7 linked regions of the Homo sapiens genome follow. The protein of the gene in region 5 interacts with the protein of the main gene of each other region in a biochemical or structural test. Each region holds a gene or a part of one and is shown on either strand. Other genes may lie near its edges.

Region 1 (3,500 bases), on a different chromosome or scaffold from region 5:
GCAGGCCACCCTCTGCGAGAGGGAGAGGAATTCGGGAGCCCAGTCGGGCCTCAGGCACACTCCAGCTGCCACTTGGGGGCAGGTCCTTCTGGAGGGAGTCCTGGAGGAAGCCCTAGAAGTGCTGACCCAAGACAGAGGCCTTCTAGGCTGCTGAGGAGACCAGTGATGAGGACGGCCCCAGGGTACCGGCCACCTGCTTGGGGAAGCCAGGCAAGGTTCCAAATCGGGCCTCCAGCGCTGTCTCACAAGGCACCCGGCCAAGGGCAGAGGCTGTGGGGAGCCCAGGGCAGGCAGGGGCCCCTGGACTGATGAAAGCCAAGGGTGTCCTGACTGGAAGTTTATCACACACCAGGTGCCGCGCTGGGCATGACTGCATCATCTCACAGCAGTCTCTGCTTTAACAGACGAGGAAACAGAGGCCCAAAAGACTGACTTGCCCAGGATCACAGGGGAGGCAGGGTCCTCCCAGACCACCCACCACCTGCGCTGCTGAGCCACACACAGTTGCTACATGACATTCTCTGTGAGGCTTTTTTTTGGGGACAGGATCTCACTATGTTGTCCAGACTGGTCTTGAACTCCTGGGCTTGAGCGATCCTCCTGCCTCAGCCTCCCAAAGCACTGAAATTACAGGCATGAGCCACTGCACCTGGCCTTGTGTGAGGCCTGACTAGCCTCAGACACAAAGCAGCCACTGCCCTTGATGCCAATGTGCCCCTTGCCCCACTGGGAGTCATGGCTGGCGTGCGTATCTTTAGGCTGTAGCTCTGGAAGCTGCACTAACACCCTTCCCTGCTCAACACCACGTCCCCAGGGCTCTGGACACGGCACCTGCTCTCAGCTCTACCCAGGTGAGGCTCTCCTTTCAGAACTGCCCCCTTTCTTCCTTGAAAGATCTCCCATAGCCAAATTCACGCCCCCAGCCTCAGCTCTGTGCAAGTTGGCCTCTGTGCCCTGGATGTAACATCATCTTTATACTTTCCTACCGGTCGGAGTCCTCAGCCACCTTCTGAGCTTCCTAAGGCCAGGGAGGGGCCACATCCAGACTCCAGGCCCACACCCTGCAGAGTCTCGCTGGAGAGCTAGAAAAGCTCAGATCAAACGCAGGGGAGGGACCCCACCATATCCCACTGCCAGGCAGGGCCTGTCTGCAGGAAGTGAGGGGTCTGCTGAAAGAGCAAATGGCACTCTCTGTTCGGCAGCCTGGCGCTCAGTGTTGCCCCAGAGTGTCCTTCCAGTCACTCCAGATGGGGCAGCAGCTGAACGTCACAGATGCTAAGACAGCACCTCTAGGCCAACCAGTTTCCCAGGGAGCAGAAGGAAAGGCTTGGCGGGGCAGTTTAATGGAAGGCATGGAGACTCCATGTGGTGAATCAAGCTTAAAACCAACCCAGGGTCTCCCTGGGTCATCACTGCATCAACCACGCAGCCTGCTGTGGCCCAGTGCTACCAGCCAGGCAAGCCCCATGGCCCACCCAGTTACAAGGCTGCTCCTCGGCCTCTTGCCAGGCCTGAGCCCCACCATGTGACCACTGAGGCCAACGCATGAGATGCCCAGCTGCTGAGGAGCAACTGGTCAGTCTAAGGACAGAGAAGAGCTACTGGTCAACACAAATTCATCCTCATCTGGGAACTAACACGTCAGATCACGACAAAGGGGTATGCCAGCAGTTCTCAAACACGCCATGTGAACCAGTGCTCACTGATCCATGGAGGAAGCTCCCTGCACTGCTGCAAACCTGTCTTCTCTTGGGAAGGACAGGCTTTTATTCCAAGATTATATAGCTGCTTTTTATTTTTTAAAGATTCATATATTTTCCATTCCCCTGAGATGACAGTGACAATAGATGGTCATTTTTAAAAACTGCCTGTGCTTTCTAATTAGCAACCTGTACCTGGCACCAACATTTTAAAAAATAAATTAAAATTCCCGCCACATGCAAGCAAACACTGGGCTGGACCTCCTCTTCGGGAGGCACCCAGGGGGACAAAACTGTTTTCTCACCATGAGTCAGCCCCAAACTGGGTTTCTGTCCCTAGCACGCTCTCATTTTAAGTAATTTGTTCTCTGGCAACTACATCTCGGGCTCTGTTCTCTCTAATTCCTCCCCAGGATGTAGGGAAGCCAGGTTGGGCTAATTTCCGCTCCTTTTTCGGCAGCAACTCCTACCTGGCTGGTCTCAGAATCCTCCCCGCCCCCCACACCGCTCCCTTCTGCATGTTAATTCTGACAACAGAACAGATTTTCCTCTCTCCCCGGCAGGCGGTGGGTCTGCAATGGAACTCCCACTCCCAAATGCTCCGGGATTGGGAAGGGGTGATCAGCTGCACCGACACCACCGACACGGTAGATAGGGGGGCGGAGACTTGAGCAGGGCGCGAATGCCAACTGGAAGGAAGAGAGCCAGTTCTAAAGTCAACGCTCACTCTGCCTCAGGCACGCCCCTGCCAGCCTATCACATGTCGGCCACTGGAAAAACCAGAGCCGCCAGGAAACCTGAGGAATCAATGCAGGGTGCTAGGATGGCGCTCCGGACAGCCAGCCCGTGTGGCCCGCAGAGGCCCTCACCTTGGGGGTCGGCTTTCTTGAATGCGTTGCCAGCGTCCACAAAGCAGGTGGCTGCGTCGTGCTTGCTCTGGAGCTGCAGGTGCAGCTGTGCAGCCTGGCAGAACGCGTTTCCAGCAGCTGGAACAGAAGAGAAGGGCAGTCCTGGCCTCAGTGGGGCTCCACACTTTATGAAGCCACAGAGACACTGCCCTGGGAGGTGGGTCGGGCTCTCGAGAATGCGGAAAGAGTCCCCAAGACAGGACGAGGGTGACCTGAGCGAGCCCAGACCGAGGCCTAGAACTCAGGTCTCCTGGCTCCTGCGCTCAGGTCTGCTGGCTCCTGCGCTGAGGCTCCTGGTGGCCCACCTGACAGTCTCTGAGGGCGGCAGGAAGCTGCCTCGGGGGAAGGCCCTGAGCCCCAGGTATATGGAAAGAGAGCCAGGGTAAGCCCAGGTAAAACACCATGTCCCTAATCCCAGCTATGCCAGCATTTCCAGGGCCACCACTTCTAAAGATCCAAGGAGAAGGCAGATAGAGCTGAGTTGGAAAGGATATAAAACAGAGTGAGGTGGCCTCCTGCACCTCCCGGCCTGGGCAGTCCTCCCCAGGGGAGCCTCGAAGCACAGGGCCCAGAACCACCACTAGAAGGCAAAGTACAGGCTGAAATCATGGGGTGGCTTCGGAGGGGTATTTTGGGAAGCAAGGGGCAACTGAGATTAAACCACATAACATCTTCCCATCTACTCCCCTTTCCAAGTCCTGTTTCTTTTTCCACAGCTCCCCAAAGCTCTTCCTGATTCTCCCAACTCCTCTGCCTCTGTTCACATTCTGTTCCCTTCACTGCAGATCCCCATGGACAAGGCACTTGCATGAATTGTGAGGCTCATGGAGTTGGGGTCGGACAACACAGAGCCGGCTCCCTCCAGGAGCTGCATGTCCAGAGAGGGAAACAG
Region 2 (3,500 bases), on a different chromosome or scaffold from region 5:
TCAGGCTGTTATCAGCATAGCATATCCAGGATTGCTTTGGCCTTGCTCAGTGGGTATGTGCGTTCTTTGAAGTTCTTACCTGACAGATGTGGGCAGCTGGCTTTACACAAGGAAGAGTTGTTTAAAGAGCTTTGGTATGGAAACAAAGTTACTAAACTTGACAGTCACTTGAGGATTATTTAAAAAACAAACAAAATAACTGAATGTGGTAAAATACTATCTCTAGAATATTTTTCAAACTGTTAAATGCATCCTTTTAACAGAAGCTGTTGATGTCTACAAACACTGTCTTTGTAGACAAAGACAAACCCCCCTTGCATGGGGGTTTGGGGGTTGGGAAGCAGTTGAGAAAATGGCATAGTCCCGTGAGAAAACCTTGGAATACTTTCTTTTAATAACATTTTTTTATTGCATAGAACTGTAAAGCTACAGAAATGCTTTCTTGGAGTTTTCCTTCATCCTTTCAGAAGGGCTAATATTGACCTTTGGTTAGCATGTTAGTATTTTCACCTGTGTCAAGTGATGTCTTCACGCTTTTGGGGGGTGTGTGTGTGCATGCCCACCTCGTGTTGTGTAGGGCACATTGGCCGATACCTATAATGTGTTTCAATTACTACATTGTTGGCATTTCAGTAGGCTCCTTCAGCCTTTGCCCATCTGGGAAGTGGAGACTAGGGCAATAAATGTTTTAGGGGTAGATTGAGACTGCAGTGTTTTTCATCTTTTAGCTTGTACTTTAAGACAATGGGATGTACCCCTAGACCATTTACCTAGATTTAAATTACTTCCTTGTGATGTGGTTTAGAGCTCTAAGTTCCTTGAGTTGTCTTGAAAGGCTGAAGGGTGCTCAGAGAATGGAGGGGAATTGAAAATGGAACCTAAGGATCTGGGAGTGGTCATATGTGTGAGTGGTGAAATGTGCCCCCCAACACCCCGTTGGGTCGGGTCTGGAGTTAAAAGCAGTGGCTGACATACATTTTGCAATATAAGGGTAAAGAAAGGTAAAGAAGGAACAAACATTTCTAGAGGATAAATGCTTTAATTCCAGAAGATAGGCCACACAGTTTAGGAACTGTGGTAAGAGGTGCTTTGCCATATTTATGTTACTGTTTAATCTGTGTAACAATCGTATGAGATGACTTAGTCAGTGGCTAGGTAACTTTCTGCTGGATGAGGCTGCACTAGTAAATGGTGGCACAGGCAAAGCCTTGTACTTTCCCTCATACCAGTATCAGCTCATTAGAGTTAACTCATAAAGGGGTTTGTTCTTGAGAGAGGGAGGCAGAGAATTTAAAACCATTAATGAAGTATTAATAGCTGTCAGGACAATTTCTTAAGAACATCAATTCATTAAGAGTTATTCTCTGAATTTTTTAGGAGGGATTTCTTGCCCTACTTTTGAAAAAGTTCAGACAGATGACTCCAAAGAATGTTTGATTTCTCTTGTGAATATTCACTTTTATATCAGATTCTGATGGTTTCTTGATTCTATATATTTAGAAAGCATTCGGCCGGGCATGGTGGCTCATGCCTGTAATCCCAGCACGTTGGGAGGCTGAGGCAGGCAGATCAACTGAGGTCAGGAGTTCGAGACCAGCCTGACCAACATGGAGAAACCCCATCTCTACTAAAAATACAAAATTAGCCGGGCATGGTAGCGCATGCCTGTAATCCCAGCTACTTGGGAGGCTGAGGCAGGAGAATCGCTTGAACCTGGAAGACGGAGGTTGCGGTGAGCCGAGATCCCGCCATCGCACTCCAGCCTGGGCAACAAGAGCAAAACTCTGTCTCAAAAAAAAAAAAAAACAAAACACATTAACTTGTGGGTAATTTGTCCTTCTGCTATCCAGTCTTTGGAAGGCAGGGCAAAGCTTGTGTGTGGTAGAGATTTCATAGGCTTGCAGGTTTGTAGAGTGGGAATTCAAGAAGTTGTAAAGGGCACTTATTAAGATAGGAATGTCTAAAATAAATGATCTTTAGCAGTGCCACCTTAAACTTTGTAAGTGTTGCTACAAAACCTTTAGTTCTGCATGCTCCTGACCAGCCATTGCCTTGGACAGAGAAACAAATAAGGGTGAGTTAATAAACTAGAGACTTGTCTCAATTGTTCAAAGAGGTAAACTTAAGGTGATTAAAAAGTGCTGTTTTATTCTGTATGAGATACACTTTGGGAAGTCGTCATTTTCCAAGACGATGATACGCCAGGCATACGAATTGGATCAGAAAGGATTTAGAGACATGCATGGATATAATGATCTCTTACAGATGTTCCTCACCTTACAGCGGAGTTACATCCTCAGAAACCCATTGTCAGTTGAAAATATTATAAGTTGAAAACATATTAGATACAGCTTAACCTACCCAACATCATAGCCTTGTCTACCTTAAACATACTCAGAACCCTTAAGTTAGCCTCCAGTTGCACAAAGTCATCTAGCACAAAGCCTATTGTATGATAAAGTATTGAATATCTCATGTACTGCATATTACTAGCCTGGGAAGAGATCAAAATTCAAAATATGTCAAAATTATGATGGCTTCACACCATTGTAAAATTGAAAAATCGCAAGTCAAACCAATCGGGGATTGTCTGTACATAAGAGATGATTGTCCAAATTAGAGCTGTTTTGGGTTTCTGCCCTTTGCAGATCCTTTGAGGTTTTCTTTATAGACAGATGACTCCTTCTGGGGGAATTGAGCGTGACTCTGATTGAGATTTGGTTCAGTTACCACATACTGAAAGCTTCCTGTGGGCCAGGCACTAGGTTGCACTGGGGACCTGGGAGGAAGGCCTAGCCCTTAAAGTTTCCAGCCTCTAGGTATTGGGAGACGAGGGAAAATGGGGACAAGATATTTATGGCCTGTCCTTATTGAGAGCTTAGAAAAAGCTGTGTTAATTCTGCTTTGGGTGTTCGATCTCACAGGGAAGATGGCATTTGAGATATGTGACTTGGCGAGCTTACACTGTGCGCTTGCCATTTTTCTAAGCGTTCATTTATTTAATTCTTAATGCAAGCCTAGGAAGTGGGTACAGTTATGATCCTGAAGTTATTAACCCAAGTTATGAACCTGACTGAGGGTTGGAGCTGGGATTTGAATCAAGATCTGTCTGATTGCAAAGGCTATGGCTTTTTTTTTTTTTGTCGTCATGCTGGCTGTGTTTCTTCCCTTAAAAGATAAGTGGGAGTGTGCCCTTGGCTTTCTTATTTATTATGTTAGGAAGATGAGAGGAGGAGTGAGACTAGAGAAAGAGGCTTGAAAGAGAAATGGGATAGAAAAATAAAGGAAAAGGCTGGGCACAGTGGCTCACACCTGTAATCCCAGCACTTTGGGAGTCTGAGGTGGGTGGATCACCTGAGGTCAGGAGTTCGAGACCAGCGTGACCAACATAGTGAAACCCCATCTCTACTAAAAATACAAAAGTTAGCCGGGCGTGGTGGTGCATGCCTGTAATCCAGGTACTGGGGAGGCTGAGGCAGGAGAACCGCTTCAGCTGGGGA
Region 3 (3,500 bases), on a different chromosome or scaffold from region 5:
ATTTAATGTGCCTATGTTCCACGGCTTATGGAAAGCCTACATGTGGCTTGTGTATTAGCTAAATTTGTACTCCTTGTTTTGTTATTGTGATTAGATGTTGATCTTAAAAAGAAAACACAGGCCGGGTGTGGTGGCTCACGCCTGTAATCCCAGCACTTTGGGGGGGGCCAATGCGGGCAGATCACCTGAGGTCAGGAGTTTGAGACCAGCCTGGCCAACATGGCGAATCCTCGTCTCTACTAAAAGTACAAAAATTAGCTGAGCATGTTGGCAGGTGCCTGAAATCCCAGCTACTCAGGAGGCTGAGGCAGGAGAATCGCTTGAATCTGGGAGGTGGAGGCTGCAGTGAGCTGAGATCATGCCACTGCACTCCATCCAGCCTGGAACACAAAATTGAGACTCTCTCTCAAAAAAAAAAAGAAAAAGAAAGAAAGAAAACAAAAATATTTTCAATAAATTTTACTTTTATAGTACATGCATATGTATGCTTATCTTACATATTATCATTATTTGAAATAGTATTTTAAAAGCTTCATTTGTGGCTGGGTGCGGCAGCTCACACCTGTAATTCCAGCATTCCAGCACTTTGGGAGGCCAAGGCAGGTGGATCACGAGGTCAAGAGATGGAGACCATCCTGGCCAACGTGGTGAAACCCTGTCTGTACTAAAAATACAAAAATTAGCTGGGTGTGGTGGTGCACGCCTGTAGTCCCAGCTACTCAGTAGGTTGAGGCGGGAGAATTGCTTGAACCTGGGAGGCAGAGGTTGTGGTGAGCCGAGATCGCGCCACTGTACTCCAGTCTGGTGACAGAGCGAAACTCCATCTCAAAAAAACAAAACAAAACAAAAAAACCCAAAACAAAAAAAATTTTCATTTGTGCCATCTTAAATCATCAATATAGGAGTGAAAATGTTGTGAGATAAAATTACACATCATTAGCTTTCTTCATAAATCTAAGAATTTGAAAGATATATAAAATTTCCTAGAGTTCATTTCATATCATATGCAGTAAATAAAAGTTGCACCAAAAACAAACCTTTAACTCTTTGGTCTCTTGTAATAATGCTGACAGTCTTCCTTCTACATCAGTAGTTTTGGTGGCTATTATAGTCTCGGTCTCTCCTTGTACCTCAACTGATTTTGCCTGAAATTAGAAATTGGAAAAAAAGATGTCTCTTAAACATTACAATCAATATGAACTCCCAAAGGGTTATTTAATTTTTTTGCCATTTTGATATTTTACTTTCACTAACAGAAAATATAATTCCTTATGTATTTATGTGCAACAAAGTGCTCTCCACTGTCAGATGAGCTGTTCCCACATGGAAGAGCATCAAATCTCATAAGAGTACGAGGAAGGCTGGGCTAAGGTGCCTCAAGGTAGGTAAGCCCAGAAAAGTAATCAGCAAGGCAGCTCTAATGTAACTGTAACCCAGCATTTAATAAACACAGAATATTTTTCAAAGCCTTTCCTTCATAAATTTCCTATAAGTCCATACTACCACCCTAGATAGGTAGATAAATTGAGCCAAATATCATTATTAGTGAAATGCAAATCTTTTCTCAAGTGCTAGAGGAGACACTCCTGAATAACAGTTTTTCAGTCTTTCCTTGTCTTTTTTCTAAAATACTAGGAAGTCGGGTAGTGACACAACAAATATCTAAAAATGTGGAAGTAGCTTTGGAACTGTGTAATGAGTAGAGGCTGTAAGAGAGGTGCATGGTAGACAAAGCCTGCATTACCTTGATGAGACTGTTGCTAGAGATATGGACATTAAGTGATTCTGGTGAGAGCTCAGAAAGAAAAGAGCGGAGTTGGAAAGAAGCTTCATGGTCATAGTGAGAAGAAGAATGCTGGCAGAAATATGAATGTTAAAGGTGCTTTTGGTGAGGTCTCAGATGAAAACTAGGAACATGTTACTGGGAATCGGAGGAAAGGCAATCCTTGTTATAAAGTGGCAAATAACTTGGCCAAATAGTGTTGCAGTGTTTTGTGGACAGCAGAACTTGTAAATAATGAATTTGGATATTTTACTGAGGTTTCTAAGCAAAGTGTTGGAGTGCAGCCTGGTTTCTCCTTGTTGCTTAAAGTTAAATGTGAGAGAAGAGAGATAAATTGAAGAAGAAATTGCTAAGCAAAAAAGAATCAGAATTAGAAGATTTGGAAAATTCTCAGTCTACCTATATTGCAAAAGTATGAGAAGGAATGTTCTGGAGAAAACAACAACGGTTTCTGAATATTTTATGACAGCAGAAAAACTGCCAGCTTGGACTGAAGGGACAGAAATAGAATGTAATACCAGCAAAATAAACTATTAAGTAACTGAATAAACTAATCTGGTGAGACTGACTATAAAACGACTGTCACCATGAACATGAAGCCTATGTTACTAGAATACCGGCTAGTAAGTAATCTAAAGAGAAGGTGCTATCTGATGAATTTGTTTCTTTTTAATTGTGGCTAAGAAATAATACATCAACCTTGTCTTTATTACCTTCCAGAGAAAAAAGAGAAAATACTTACAAACGCTTCTGTTTTCTGTAACAGTTCCTGCTTTTCTGTCTGTAGTTTGGTGATCTCCACAGATTGTGAGTTTAACTGAGACTTTAAAGTTGCCAGTTCCTAAGAGACAAAAATAGTTGAGTCATAACATTAAATGGTATTAAATTCATCAAGGAAATATTTACAGGGAGACATTTAAAAAAATGATTTACAACCTCCTACTTTTAAAATCTAACTCTAAAGAACTATTCTTGAATTTTGGGTTCAAGATGGAAAATTCAACACATTCATTTACCTCTGCTCCCTCCTGAAATCCCATGCAAAAAAAAAAAATCATAAAAGACAGGAAGGGAGGGGAGAAGGAAGAAAGAAAGGAAGGATGGGAGGGAGAGAGGAAGAAACCTACAAAAACAAGAACAGTAAGAGAAGAGAGCAATATAATTGGGGAATTTTGAGAAAGCAAGTAACAGTGATAACTAAATCAGCACACCTGAGAAAGCTGAAAGCTAGGATGACCACTGAGAAAGTTAAGATAGTACCTGACTTACAATGAATGCATTAACTACCAGAAAGGTTAGGAACTGGTATCATTAGATACCACTGGAAGTACAGATAAAAATGAGGTTAAAAACTGCAGGCCTGGTTAAAAGACTATTTAAGAAATAGATCATCAGATCCCTGTCTCAATCTTAGGCATCAGGCAACCGTTCCTCCTTTCCTGGATGAAGACTTGAGGTTTATTATGTGGCTGGGCAAAACAGGACATCTTTAGACTAGGGACCACCAAACACAGATGAAAGCAGTAGTACTATAATGAAAACCAGGGTATTAATTGAAAGTTTTTATTAATGTTGAATTTCCAAACTTCTCACCTTCTCCTCCCCCAAAAAAAGTACAGGAAAAGAAAGGCAATTATAACAATGGCTCTCAGCAGGAGTGATTTCTCCCCATATCCCCCCATCCCCGAGGACATTTGGTAATGTCTGGAGACACTGA
Region 4 (3,500 bases), on a different chromosome or scaffold from region 5:
CAGTGAGCCGAGATCATGCCACTGTACTTCAGCCTGGGCAACAGCAAGACTCCGTCTCAAAAAAAAAAAAAAAAAATGCAAGCAGAAAGGAAGTAAAAGAAAAGAGAAGAAAAGAAGAAAGGAAAAGTAAATGAGCTTCTTGGAAAGAAATACACAGAAAAAAGGCCCTGGAATTTAAATAAGGCCTTGGAAGATCCATGTGGCTTCATTTGTAAAACTGGTGAGCTACTCAAGAAGTAATGAAGAAAGAGCACTTTAAATCACCATCAGGCCAGGCGTGGTGGCTCATGCCTGTAATCCCAGCACTGTGGGAGGCAGAGGTGGGCGGATCACTTGAGGCCAGTAGTTCAAGACCAGACTGCCCAATACGGTGAAACCCCAGCTCTACTAAAAAGAAAACACAAAAATTAGCCGAGTGCAGTAGTGCACGTCTGTGGCTTGAGCCTGGGAGGCAGAGGCTGCAGTGAGCCAAGACTCACTGCACTCCAGCCTGGGCAACAGAGCAAGACTGTCTGAAAAAAAAAGAAAAAAAAAATCACCATCAATTTCACAGGGTCTTGCAAAGAATGATTTTATAAGATAATTCTTTTTATACTGGTAAACAAGGATTTTGCAGCTAAAATATTCTACCAAATTAGTTTCCTGCCTTATTCCTTCTCTGAAAATTAATCACAATAAAGCTCCTCAATGAGTTACACTCAAAGGGTTTATTACTGTACTTTTAAGTTCAGCATTCTCTTTGGCTTGATAGAAGTCTACGTCCATGGTAACCAATGCATCCGCAGCAAGAGGAAACTTCTGTTTATAGCAGGATAGCATAGTGGGTGAGTGGGAATTCCAGCATATAAATTCCAGCCTCACAATGTATTTGTTGTGTGACCCCAAGTTAATTACCTAACACCACTAAAACTCGGTTTCTGTATTTGTAAAACAAGGATAACATTCTATTTTATAGTTTTGTTTTTTTTGTGAAGATTAAAAAGAGATGATCTACACAAAGTACTTAGTACAATGCCTTGCACATGGCCGGTGTTCAATGTTAGCCATTATATTAATATTTTTACTGAAGTGGAAATAAATAGTAGGCAAAACAAAAGGAAAGTAACAATGTTGAATATGAGTCACATTTATGTAAATGTAGCTGAAAGTAATAGCTACTAAATATTAATAGTTCCATCTGCAAGGCTAAATTTGAATATTAAAGTTGATGATATAAAGTATAGGCTATATACAACTTTTTTTTTGAGACAGAGTCTCACTTTTTATTTTATTTTATTTTACTTTATTTTATTTGAGACGGAGTCTCGCTCTGTTGCCCAGGCTGGAGTGCAGTGGTGCAATCTTAGGTCACTGCAACCTCTGCCCCAGGGTTCAAGTGATTCTCCTTCCCCAGTCTCCCGAGTAGCTGGGATTACAGGTGCCCACCACTACACCTGGCCCTTTTATTATATTATTATTTTTTTTTTTGTAGAGGCAGGGTCTCACTATGTTGCCCAGGCTGGTCTCAAACTCCTGGCCTCAAGTGATGCTCCTGGCTCAGCCTCCCAAAGTGCTGGGATTACATGTATGAGCCACTTTGCCTGGCAAGGGTCTCCTTTATGTTAAGGATGGCTTCCTCCTTTTACTTCCTCTCTGGGCTTTCCTTTCTATCTCCTTCTACACAAACAACTTTAACCATTTTTATATATAGGCCCCAAAACTATGCAAATATACATACATATTTTTTTCTCTTTTTAAAAACTCTTTTCTTTTTACCATACAAAGTCTATAACTCAAATGCAAATATACTAAGTACATCACAGAATCGTATCTACTAAACAGCTTGGTTTCAGGCCAGGCGCAGTGGCTCACATTTGTAATCCCAGCACTTTGGGAGGCCAAGGTGGGTGGATCACCTGAGGTCAGGAGTTTGAGACCAGACTGGCCAACATGGAAAAACCCCGTCTCTACTAAAAAATACCAAAGGCCGGGTATGGTGGCTCACGCCTGTAATCCTAGCACTTTGGGAGGCTGAGGAGGGCAGATCACTTGAGGTCATGGGTTCGAGACCAGCCTGGCCAACACGGCAAAACCCCGTCTCTACTAAAAATACAAAAATTAGCTGGGCGTGGTGGCATGTGCCTGTAATCCTAGCTACTTGGGAGGCTGAGGCAGGAAAATCACTTGAACCCAGGAGGCAGAGGTTGCAGTGAGTCGAGATTGTGCCACTGTACTCCAGCCTGGGCAACGGAGTGAGACACCATCTCAAAAAAAAAAAAAAAAAAATTAGCCAGGCGTGGTGGCGGGCACCTGTAATCCCAGCTACTCAGGAGGCTAAGGCAGGAGAATCACTTGAACCCGGGAGGCGGAGGTTGCAGTTAGCCGAGATCGCACCGCTGCACTCCAGCCTCAGCGACAGAGCGAGACTCCATCTTAAAAAACAACACGAAAAAACAAAACAAACAAAAATCAGCTTGGTTTCAAAGTACACTGAAGCACAAGATTCAAGACAGAAATCATATTAACAAATGGGAAAGTCCCACTAAAAATCAGGAACCAAAAAGAAAACCAAAATTACATTTTCAGGCCTATAGTCCCAGCTACTCAGGAAGCTGAGGCAGGAGGATCACCTGAGCCCAGGAGTTTAAATGTAACCTGGGCAACATAGCAAGACCCTGACTCTAATTACAAAAAAAATTAAACTTCAGTTTTACAGAAGCACCTATGGTAACTTAATTGCTTGATGTCCAACGCCTGGTCTTCAAGTCCCTGTCAAATTAGGAACTTCCACAATTCTACTCTAAGTGACCCAGGAGTAATACTGGGGAGGTAGATGTAGGTTTGATTGTAATCAATTTTATTAACCCTATCAATGAGAATGGTTATGTGAACAGAAAGGGGACGTTCTATGTGAAAGATAAGAACGGGGCTCAAGAGCCAGAAGCTGGCAATCTACCCAGGAAGAGACAATGTGGCAGGCATAAGTGTGGTATCTGCCAGGGAGATACCAAGTACGGGGTGAGATTAATTGGCAAGGATTCACCCTGCCTGAATGAAATATTCACCGAAACCATCCACATAGTTTAGCTCTGATTAAGTTCACTTAGATGCTTTATTTATTTATTTATTTATTTAGGTAGATATAGGGTGGCTCACTATGTTGCCCAGGCTGGTCTTGAACTCCTGGCCTCAAGCAATCCTTCTGTCTTGGACTCCCAAAATGCCAGAAGGCGTGAGACACCACACCCAGCCACTTTGATGCTTTCTGGTTAGTTTTTCAAATATTCCGATATTAAGAGTCAGAAGCTACAGACAGCGAATATAAGCACTCTGCCGGGCGCAGTGGCTCATGCCTGTAATCCCAGCACTTTGGGAGGCTGAGGCAGGCGGATCACGAGGTCAGGAGATCGAGACCATCCTGGCTAACAAGGTGAAACCGTCTCTACTAAAAAACAGAAAATTAGCCGGGCGTGGTAGTGGGCGCCTGTAGTCCCAGCTACTCAGGAGGCTGAGGCAGGAGA
Region 5 (3,500 bases):
ACAGACCATTGCAGTCAGGAAATCATGGTTCTGAGTGAAAAAGGAAAACATAATGACACGGACAGGAAATCAGGGGATAAAAAAAGCTCTATGGCCAACCATGGTGGCTCAGGCCAGTAATCCCAGCACTTTGGGAGGCTGAGGTGGGCAGATGGCTTGAGCTCACGAGTTTGAGACCAGCCTAGGCAACATGGCAAAACCCCATCTCTGCAAAAAATACAAAAATTAGCTGGGTGTGCTGGTGTGACCCTACAGTCCCAGCTACTCGGGAGGCTGAGGTGGGAGGATAGCTTGAACCCAGGAGGTTGAGGAGCTTGATGCTGCAGTGAGATTGTGCCACTGCACTCCAGCATGGGTGACATAGCAAGACTGCCTCAGGGGGAAAAAAAAAAAAAAACACCAAAAAAAAAGGTATATGGACCCTAGTTTTGGCCAGGCTGTAATCCCAGCACTTTGGTAGGCCCAGGCAGGAGGATCACTTGAGCCTAGGAGTTGGAGACCAGCTTGAACAACATGGTAAGACACTTGTCTCTACTAAAAAAATAATAATAAATAAGTATATTGGAGGATGTGAGTAGATTACATGCAAATATGACAAGATTTTATGGGACTTGCGGATGCATGGATTTTGGTTTCCTCTGGGGCTCTTGGAGCCAATGCCCCACAATACCAAGGGATGAGTGTGCTTAATCTGATAGTTAGCACCTTGAACAAGTGATTAAATTGACATCAGCAATAAAAGGGATAACCTCATCAAGTGCCTACTAATGTAATCATCGCAGCACTAATTTAATCAGTGTTAGATTTAATTTAACATTGAACAAAACAAGTTGATGTCATGAAAAATAAAACAAAAGGCCCACTGAAGACACACATCAAATACAAAATGTGAATCTTCCTGGGTCTTAAATTGAAAGAAAAAAGATAAAAACTTTTGTTTTAAATATCAAATGGGGGCCGGACATGGTGGCTCACACCTGTAATCCCAGCACTTTGGGAGGCCGAGGCAGGCCGATCACGAAGTCAGGAGATTGAGACCATTCAGGCTAACATGGTGAAACACTGTCTCTACTAAAAATACAAAAAATTAGCCGGGCATGGTGGCGGGCACCTGTAGTCCCGGCTATTCGGGAGGCTGAGGCAGGAGAATGGCTTGAACCCAGGAGGTGGAGCTTGCAGTGAGCCGAGATCGTGCCACTGCACTCCAGCCTGGGTGACAGAGCGAGACTCCGTCTCAAAAAAAAAAAAAAAAAAAAATCAGATGGGGAAACTTGAACATGGGCTGATTACTGGATCATGTTGGAGAACTGTTAATTTTCTTAGTTTGAAAATGACATTATGGGCAGGGCGTGGTGGCTCACACCTGTAATCCCAGCACTTTGGGAGGCCGAGGTGGGTGCATCACGAGGTCAGGAGATGGAGACCATCCTGGCTAACACGGTGAAACCCCGTCTCTACTAAAAATACAAAAAATTAGCCAGGCGTGGTGGCGGGCGCCTGTAGTCCCAGCTACTCAGGAGGCTGAGGCAGGAGAATGGTGTGAACCTGGGAGGCAGAGCTTGCAGTGAGTGGAGATCGCACCATTGCACTCCAGCCTGGGAAACAGAGCAAGACTCTGTCTCAAAAAAAAAAAAAAAAAAAAAAAAAAAAAAAAGACATTATGGCTGTTCAGGAGAATGCCTTATTATTAGCATGCTGTAGTATCTAGGAATAAAACAGCATGAAATTTGCACCTACTTTCAAATAATTCGGCAAAAGAAAGAGGGGAAAGGCTGAATGTGGTGGCTCACGCCGATAATCCCAGCACTCTGGGAGGCTGAGGTGGGCGGATCACAAGTTCAGGGGTTTGAGACCCGCCTGACCAACATAGTGAAAACCTGTCTCTACTAAAAATACAAAAATTAGCTGGATGTGGTGACGTGCACCTGTAACCCCAGCTACTCAGGAGGCTGAGGCAGGAGAACCACTTGAACCCGGGAGGCGGAGATTGCAGTGAGCTGAGATCTCGCACCACTGCACTCCAACCTGGGTGACAGAGCAAGACTCCATCTCAAAAAAAAAAAAAAAAAAGAAAGAAAAAGAAAAAAAGTGACAAAATGTTAACAATTGGTGGCCAGATCTGGCCAACGCCTGTAATCCCAGCACTTTGGGAAGCCAAGGTGGCTGGATTGCTTGAGTTCAGGAGTTCAAGAACAGCCTGGGGAATATAGGAGACTCTGTCTCTACAAAAAAATTTAAAAATTAGCTGGACATGGTGGCATGTACCTGTTATCCCAGCTACTGGGGAGGCTGAGGTGGGGGGATCACTTGTGCCCAGGAGTTTGAGGCTGCAGTGAGCCATTATTGCGCTACTGCACTATAGCCTGAGTGACAGAGTGTCACCTTGTCTCAAAAGAAAAGAAAAAAACAAATATGAAAACAAAAAAAGTTAGTGACTACAGGTGAAGGGAATATGAGTGTTTATTGTGCTATCCTCCCAACTTTTCTGTAGTTTGAATATTTTATGAGGTGAAAAGGAAAATGACTGAGCAACATTAGATCAGTGGTTTTCACACCTTAGGAAAAATAAGAATCACCTGTTGAATTCTCAAATATAAAAATTCTCAAGTGTCACAACCAGAAATTCTAGGTTGGGGCCCAAGAATCTGCATCCCAAAAAACTTCAGACTTAATCAGTGGTTTCTAGAGCAAGTGCTGAAACCCAGATCCACTGGCATGCAGGGAGGAAGCATATGAATGTCTACACCTATTTTAAAGATGGCATCCTTTCATAAATTTATTTTGTATATGGTTGCCCATAAATTCTACTTCCTTATTTCTTTTATGCTCCAACATACTGTAAAATTGCTACTGAGCCATTCCACTGAAAATACTGGCACTGATCCAATTAATTCAAGCCCCTCCTGACTCAAACACATCCTTACCTCGAACTTTCTTTCTCAGGAGCAAGGAGAAATAACCACTCCTTAAAATTCTTCTATCCCAAGTTCTAAGGACACATTTCTCTCTCTGCTTTCTTCTCTCATCTTCCTCAACCTTCCTCCTCAGTCTGGCCAGATTCTTCCCTTCTCTACATACCCCCTGACTCCATGGGGGATCTGTCCTGACCTTTTTTTCACTTTACCCAGTCTCTGGGTGGTCTATGCCCAGGGTTTCACCAAGAGGCCACTGTCCTAAGTCCTTACCTCTAGCACTGCCTTCTCTTCCAAACATCAGAACATGAAATGCCTACTAAACTCTGTCATTTAGCTGTCCCATGAAGTCTGAGGCACTCAGCACACCCAGAACAAACCTAATTCTCACCCAGCATCAATCCGCTTGCTTCTTCTTATGTTCTCTCCCTGACACCAAATTTCTTGCTGTGACACACAGGTTATCTGTGACCTGGCCTTGCCTCTCACCACTCCCCCAGCCATGCTGAATAATTCTGCACTCCTGTATCTACCAAGTTCTTTCTCATTTCTGTGCTGTTTTTTCCTCACATGGAACAGCTTCTCCTT
Region 6 (3,500 bases), on a different chromosome or scaffold from region 5:
TTAAGAATACAATAAAAAGCTTATTGTGCTAAGTCAGAGTCTCTGTGCTCATCTCTTTTCACACTTGGGATTGACACCAATGGGAAGAGTAATGATAATTACAGTTTGCCCCTTAACCCTGCTTGCTCCCAGGAACTCCAAGGAGAGCTACTTGTTCAAGATGATTTTTATTTACTCATATGTTAATAACATGGGTTTTTTAGTGGCATGGTGCATAGGTGATTTCAGAGTCAAAAACTGTGAAACTGTGACAAAAGAGTATTGTTTCAGGTTGAGTGGAATGGGAATGGGAGGAAGGAGCTGGCTCACAAAACACATTACATTTTTTCACAGTCCAACTTGAAAGTTAAGGAGGTACTTATTTCAGAATTTCCCTAGTATATATGGTATTGAGCTAAAAAATATTCAGAAGGGTTAAAATCCTTCCCCCATGGTAACTCCCAATGCAGACTGGCTCATTATGGTTTCAAAAGCAGCCCAGGGCAGAGAAAATTAAAAAACTAAAGGAGAACTTTCTGGCTTTTTCCTGTAGGGAAGAAGTTTATTTAAATGATCATCAATAGCTAAGAGATACTTCTAGTTCAATGGTGCTTGGCCCTGAGTGCATATCAGAATCACCTGAGGAGCTTTAATGGGCCACAGGTGCTTGTGTCTCACTTCAAGAGATTCTGGTTCAATTGGTGTGGATTGGGCCCAAACACTGGTAGTAAAAGAAAAAAAAGTCTCCCCTGGTGATTCTAATGTACAGCCAGGCTTGAGAACCCTTGGGCTACTTTCCCTGGGAGCAAAGGGAGAGCTGAGTTCTGAATTGGCTGATGTGTGTAACTTGAGTTTTTTTTTTTTTTAAAGGAAATGCCCCTGAGTCATAATTTGAACTTTTAAAAATAGATATTTAAATTGGCTTTTGATTCTAGGTTTCAAAATAAATCATTAATAAGAAGCTCATTATTCTCTATTTTCACTCCAAATCCGTTCTTGGACCTTCTTTGCTCTGTGCTCTCAGGAGCTGACCTCATGACTATATCACCCAGCTCCTCTTACCCTCTGGCTTTCAGTAGGCTTTGGCTAATGGCCAATGAAACTGCAGGGCAAGAGGAGTGAGGGGCTACAGCATTTATTTCCCTCTTTCACTCCCTGTTAGCTTTGGTAGTGGCTGTATTTCTCTACTGATAGTTCCTTGCCCACAGTCGTAACTATTGCTGGGTTCTGATAATCATTCCTTCTCCTGTCCCCCAGGACTATGGTGGTAACAACTTCCTGCTATTGCTAGCTCAGAAGTGCTTCACCATTCCTTGTTATTAGTCCTGCCCACCCCTCTGTAAGTAGTCTCTTTTATAAGCTCTATTCAATTAAACTCATGGAATGTGATGCCTGTCTACTGCCACATTGAGTCTGGATGTGGTCATGTGACTTGCTTTGTCTAATGAAACCGGCAAATACAAGGTAAGCAAGCAAAGGTTTGGTAAGTGCACTGAGGCTTGCCCCCTTGGAATACTGCTACCACCATGTAAGGAACCTGGGCTCTCTTGCTGAAGAGGCCACATGGAGAAGAACAGACATGCCCCACCAACAGCCCCAGCCAACCACCAGACAAGTGAATGGGGCCATCTTGGATCACCCCACCCAGGCAAGGTCCAGGAAAGGCTTAGAAAAGAACACTTAGCAGGTATGTAGATTAATGAGCAATAAAATGGTTGTTTTTTAGAAAACCACTCAGTTTTGGAGTTGTTTGTACTTGACAATAGAGAACTGCTACAGTGTATGCTGCATGAGGCTCACCTGCGGATGAAGCCGCCACTGATGGCCATCTGCTCCCGTTCGTCCACTACACGAGCAGGCTGGCTGGCCACCACTCCGTCCTGATTATTGCCCCAGGCTTTTTTGTAAGCATCACTTGATTTAAGCCTATGCAAAAGAGAGGGTGAGTGACAAGGCACAGGGGTGGAGGAGCAAGCTCTCAACAATTGTCACTTCTTCAAGCGAAGAATCGAACCAAGCGAATGAGTTTTAAGTCGAGGCATTAGATAATACCGATATATCATAATCCAGACCCAAACAGTTGGCCACCACCATGCCTCAGCTACTCAACATTTCACTTCCAATCGAATCCATTGCAATGGACTGCAATCTTTGCCCACAAGGTTGTTCTTGTTTTGGTTTGTTTTGTGGTTTAGTTTGGATTTTGGACAAGGATTAAGGTAGCTGGAGGACATTTAATTCTATTTTAGTGATGTGATTATATTTGGAGACATAAAACAGAGAAAAACATACTGGCAGACAGACACAAAACAAGACTGCCAAGTAGAGTGTGCACATCACACCACAGCAACACACTGTCATCAAGAAAACATCCTCAACCAAGTTTTTACACACCATCATGCAAAGATCCCTGTGGAATATTTTTTTTTCCCAACACGTGTGGAACTAACATTTCCAAAGCTCCATGAAGGACATAAAGGATTGGTGGTTGGCCAAGAGTGATGGTCTTTGCATTGCCTCTAGAGTGATTTGAATTAGATAATATATCGGTACTTCCAAACAGTCACCATACATCCAGAGTTGATGTACAAACCTTTGTCCACAGAGACAAAAAGTAAAAGAAGCATAGTGAAATGAATGCAGGAAAAGAGAAGAGAGAACAAGCCATCTAGCACCAAAAAGGGAAACCCCTCTACGTCTTCTTCATGCACCAGCTACAGGCATGAGTAGAAAGTGAAGCATTCTCATTTAAGCCAAACTACTCCAGAAGTTGACCATTCTCGAAAAAGGCACTAGCAGGACAGTAATAGCCTTCATGAGGATTTGAAACGCAGGTTCAGTAGCTTCTTTGTTGGGCTGAGGGGCAGGGCAGAGAGTGCTTACAAACTCCTAGTTTAAACTATCCTGGGGTTGTAATGGAGGAGAGTGGTTTAATGCTGGTATGGTCTCCATGGGCTGTATTTCACTGAGCTGCCTTGGAGAAAAGACTTAAAATCCAGGCATACCTATTGTGCCCAATAGAAACATGTGCAGCATATTTTGGTGAGTGTTGTAATTAAAGGCAATCAAAGATGTTTTTAGGTTCTTTACATAGTAGAAACCATATGCTTTTTAGTCCAAAAACAAGAGACATTCTTTGGTCCCATTTTCACATTTTTTTTTGTAAGACACCAGAATTTAACATTTTATCTTCTTCTTTCGCCAGAGGACCACAGCCATCTATTAAAACTGGCTCTAATACTTGCAGACTGGGGGCCAAGCAACCCTAGAGACAAACTGGAAAATTGTACCAATGGAATTTCAGCAACTCCCACAATCAAGTCTATAATGCCGCAGGCCTTAGTGCAGTCAAAATTAATTGCACCAAAGGGCCATGGACCCATTCAATGAAACGAGATCCCCAAACTAAATTTAATAGGGCTTAGAGTCTGGCTTTTTTAATTTTTATTTTTCCAACTCCCCATCTCCTCCCTCCTCAGATTAAAAGAAGTTATATGGACTTTGTGATGTTTTCTGCTATG
Region 7 (3,500 bases), on a different chromosome or scaffold from region 5:
TCTTCAGCTTCAATGAGACGCCCATGGGACTTAACTTTGTCAGTAGTGTTCAGTTGTAAAAAAATTTCCAAAAATGCTATGAAATGCTAGAATAGATCATTAAAGGTGAGGTGAAGGGACAGAAGAAAAAAACAAATATTTAAAATTATAGATTGAGATCAGTATGAGAATGTTGGGAGTCCTTAAATAATTTAACATAAGGCTATGAGTGAGTTTGTACATATTACTGTTTGTAATATGTAACTGTTGGGACAAGGGAGAGGGCCAGGGGATAGGTGATAATCAGGAAGAGAAACATAGGGAGCTTCAGTTACTGATAATGTTACAATTAAAGAATTTTTTTTTCTTTGACACATCTGCAGAGGATCATAAAAGTAACATTATAATTCTTAGGGTGGGAGGTAAGAGATCAGAGAACCATGAAGAACCACCTAAGCTGGACTTTGAATTAAGACAGGAAAGTCAAGGTTGGCAGGAGCCAATGATAAAGTAAGAGGAAGCATGAGATAAAAATGGAAAAGTAGATTAGGATGACATTGTAGCAGCAATGTTAAAAAGACAGTGAAATGGGAATTGGAAACCCTAAAATCTCAACCACGGTTCTGCCACTCAATTTGCAATTAACCGTGAACATATCCTAAAGCCAAATCTGAATAAATATTCTACAAAATAATATAAAAAGTAACTTACTCAATATCTTTTCGTACTGATCCCATAAGATTCTCCCTTTCCCGTATTGCCATAAAGTTTGCTTTGGTTTTATGGAATTCATGTGTATAATCCTGTAATAAATCAACATCCAGTCTCAACAGAAGCTAATTATGGATTTTCATCTCACTGAACCAGTTATGTATCGTCATCACACTGTAAATTTGTCAAGAAAACTGCTATTTAAGAAATCAAATTAACCAAAGGTAAAAATAACTTTAAAATTACTTTCCTGAAGAGTGACCAACTTCTTTCAAGTGAAAATAATTCAGTGCTAGGGAAACAGTGCCATTAAATCACTATCCTTTGTACCTCCTAGTACTCTGTCTTACGAGGCAGAATTAAGAAGAAAAAAATTCTGAGATAAAATAACTTCAAATAGTCTAGGAGAAAACTTGAGAGGCTCTTTTTACTTAGTAGTATACTTAATAGAGCTTATTTTCAAATTTCATCATTTTGGAGCTCTCACAAAAAATTTAATTCCTAAACAAAAAAGAACAGAATCAAGAGAATTATAAGGAACAAAATAATCTTTAAACATTTTCTACTATTTTTGTACCACTGTTAAAAGTACTTCATTACTTTTCATAAATTCAGAGATGTAGATAAAGAAGAAAATCAAAATCTTGTCTCCCAGAGTCCCTGTTGACCTTTTAAAAAACAAAAGTAACACATAAACATGGAGGAGAATATTAAAAGAGCACCAAAAGAAATAAAGGTGAAACAAAGGAAAACAAAACATTCTGCTCCATACCTCATAACTGTTACCATCATTTTGTATTTTCTTCCAGGAAATTATTATTTTCTTTTTTTTTGGAGACAAGAGTCTTGCTCTGTCGCTCAGGCTGGAGTATAGTGGTGCCATCTCAGCTCACTGCAAACACCACTTCCTGGGTTCAAGCGATTCTAGTGCCTTGGCCTCCCTAGTACTGGGACTATAGGAGCGTGCCACTACATCCAGCTAATTTTTGTATTTTTAATAGAGATGGAGTTTCACCATGTTGGCCAGGCTGGTCTTGAACTCCTGACCTCAACAGTTCCACCCACACTGGCCTCCCAAAATGCTGGGATTACAGGCGTGAGCCACTGCACCTGGCCAGGAAATATGTTTTTACATATACAAGCTTATCTATTATTTCTTTCACTTTGCCAAGTAAGTCATAATATACATTCTGATGTACACCTTGCTTTTTGTACTTCATAAAGTATCAAGCAATCTTTCCATATTAGGAAAAAGAAATCTACATCATTCTTTTTAATAGCTGCATAGAATATTATCTTATGACTATCACAATTTAATAAATTCCCTACTGATAAACACATTAGTTGTTTTCATTTTGTTTGCTATTAAAAATACTGCAAGACTAGGCAGGGTGGCTCATGCCTGTAATCCCAGCACTTTGGGAGGCTGAGGTGGGCGGATCACTAGAGGTCAGGAGTTCGAGACCAGCTTGGCCAACATGGCGAAACCCCGTCTCTACTAAAAACACAAAACTTAGCCGGTGTGGTGGAACGCACCTGTAGTCCCAGCTACTTTGCTCAGGAGTTTGAGGCAGGAGAATCACTTGAACTTGGGAGGCAGAGGTTACAGTGAGTTGAGATCATACCACAGCACTCCAGCCTAGGCAACAGAGCGAGACTCTGTTTCAAAAAAAAAAAAAAAAAATACTGCCAATAAACATTCTTACATATATTTTTTAAACTGAACTCTTTTATTTTAAAAAAAACTATATTTAGGCTGGGCGCAGTGGCTCACGCCTGTAATCCCAACACTTTGGGAGGCCAAGGCAGGCGGATCATGAGGTCAGGAGATGGAGACCATCCTGGCTAACACGGTGAAACCCCATCTCTACTAAAAATACAAAAAAATAGCCGGGCATGGTGGCGAGCGCCTGGAGTCCCAGCTACTCGGGAGGCTGAGGCAGGAGAATGGTGTGAACCCGGGAGGCAGAGGTTGCAGTGAGCCAAGACCGCGCCACTGCACTCCAGCCTGGGTGACAGAGTGAGACTCTGTCTCAAAAAAAAAAAAAAAAAAGTATATTTAAAGAGTAAATGTCTATTAAGTTCAACAGAGCTTAAAAAAAAAAAAAAGGAGTAAATGACTAGCAATAGAATAATTGGATCAGGGCTGGGTACGGTGGCTCATGCCTGTAATCCCAGCACTTTGGGAGGCCGAGGTGGGTGGATCATGACATCAGGAGTTCAAGACCAGCTTGATCAATATGATGAAACCCCATCTCTACTAAAAATACAAAAATTAGCTGGGCGTGGTGGCGCACACCTGTAGTTCCTGCTACTCGGGAGGCCGAGGCAGAAGAATCGCTTGAACCCAGGACGTGGAGGCTGCAGTGAGCCGAGATCGCACCATTGCACTCCAATACTCCAGCCTGGACAACAGAGCGAGACTCCGTCTCAAGAAAAAAAAAAAAGAATAACTGGATCAAAGAATCTCACATTCATTTAAATTCTGGTAGTGCTAAACTGCCTTCTATAAACATTACATCAATTTATGTTCCCACCAGCAATATATGAGTACCCTTTTTAAATTTTTACTCTTGCCAATAATGGGTTATAAATGTTTCAACATTTGCTAATCTGACATGTGAAAAATCACCTCTTTTAGATTTCTGTATTTTTATTTGGAAATACTGCTGAAAATGTTTTTATAGTTTTGGCCATTCATTTTTTTGTAAGCAATTTTATATCCTTTGTCCATTTTCCTACTGTCTTTTTCTTATTTCTATTATATCTCTGTGTAGTAAGCAAATTAGCCATTCGTTATGGTTTCCAGT

Evidence for each region.
Region 1: the proteins of STX5 (region 5) and NAPA form a complex in vitro, tested with the Homo sapiens proteins (one study listed by BioGRID).
Region 2: the proteins of STX5 (region 5) and VAPB form a complex in vitro, tested with the Homo sapiens proteins (one study listed by BioGRID).
Region 3: the proteins of STX5 (region 5) and USO1 form a complex in vitro, tested with the Homo sapiens proteins (2 studies listed by BioGRID).
Region 4: the proteins of STX5 (region 5) and SNAP23 form a complex in vitro, tested with the Homo sapiens proteins (one study listed by BioGRID).
Region 6: the proteins of STX5 (region 5) and SNAP25 form a complex in vitro, tested with the Homo sapiens proteins (one study listed by BioGRID).
Region 7: the proteins of STX5 (region 5) and GOSR1 form a complex in vitro, tested with the Homo sapiens proteins (one study listed by BioGRID).

Annotation. Positions count from the first base shown.
Region 1 is NC_000019.10:47,498,064-47,501,563, forward strand, and holds part of NAPA (alpha-soluble NSF attachment protein), read right to left. Parts: exon of another isoform or gene 3,394-3,500; intron 2,687-3,393; coding exon 2,570-2,686; intron 1-2,569. UniProt on the Homo sapiens protein: Required for vesicular transport between the endoplasmic reticulum and the Golgi apparatus. Together with GNA12 promotes CDH5 localization to plasma membrane.
Region 2 is NC_000020.11:58,395,729-58,399,228, forward strand, and holds part of VAPB (vesicle-associated membrane protein-associated protein B/C), read left to right. Parts: intron 1-3,500. UniProt on the Homo sapiens protein: Endoplasmic reticulum (ER)-anchored protein that mediates the formation of contact sites between the ER and endosomes via interaction with FFAT motif-containing proteins such as STARD3 or WDR44.
Region 3 is NC_000004.12:75,808,077-75,811,576, reverse strand, and holds part of USO1 (general vesicular transport factor p115), read right to left. Parts: intron 2,625-3,500; coding exon 2,526-2,624; intron 1,146-2,525; coding exon 1,038-1,145; intron 1-1,037. UniProt on the Homo sapiens protein: General vesicular transport factor required for intercisternal transport in the Golgi stack; it is required for transcytotic fusion and/or subsequent binding of the vesicles to the target membrane.
Region 4 is NC_000015.10:42,502,134-42,505,633, reverse strand, and holds part of SNAP23 (synaptosomal-associated protein 23), read right to left. Parts: intron 1-3,500. UniProt on the Homo sapiens protein: Essential component of the high affinity receptor for the general membrane fusion machinery and an important regulator of transport vesicle docking and fusion.
Region 5 is NC_000011.10:62,808,052-62,811,551, forward strand, and holds part of STX5 (syntaxin-5), read right to left. Parts: intron 1-3,500. UniProt on the Homo sapiens protein: Mediates endoplasmic reticulum to Golgi transport.
Region 6 is NC_000020.11:10,295,330-10,298,829, reverse strand, and holds part of SNAP25 (synaptosomal-associated protein 25), read right to left. Parts: intron 1,906-3,500; coding exon 1,780-1,905; coding exon of another isoform or gene 1,776-1,779; intron 1-1,775.
Region 7 is NC_000017.11:30,487,408-30,490,907, reverse strand, and holds part of GOSR1 (Golgi SNAP receptor complex member 1), read right to left. Parts: intron 783-3,500; coding exon 691-782; intron 1-690. UniProt on the Homo sapiens protein: Involved in transport from the ER to the Golgi apparatus as well as in intra-Golgi transport. It belongs to a super-family of proteins called t-SNAREs or soluble NSF (N-ethylmaleimide-sensitive factor) attachment protein receptor.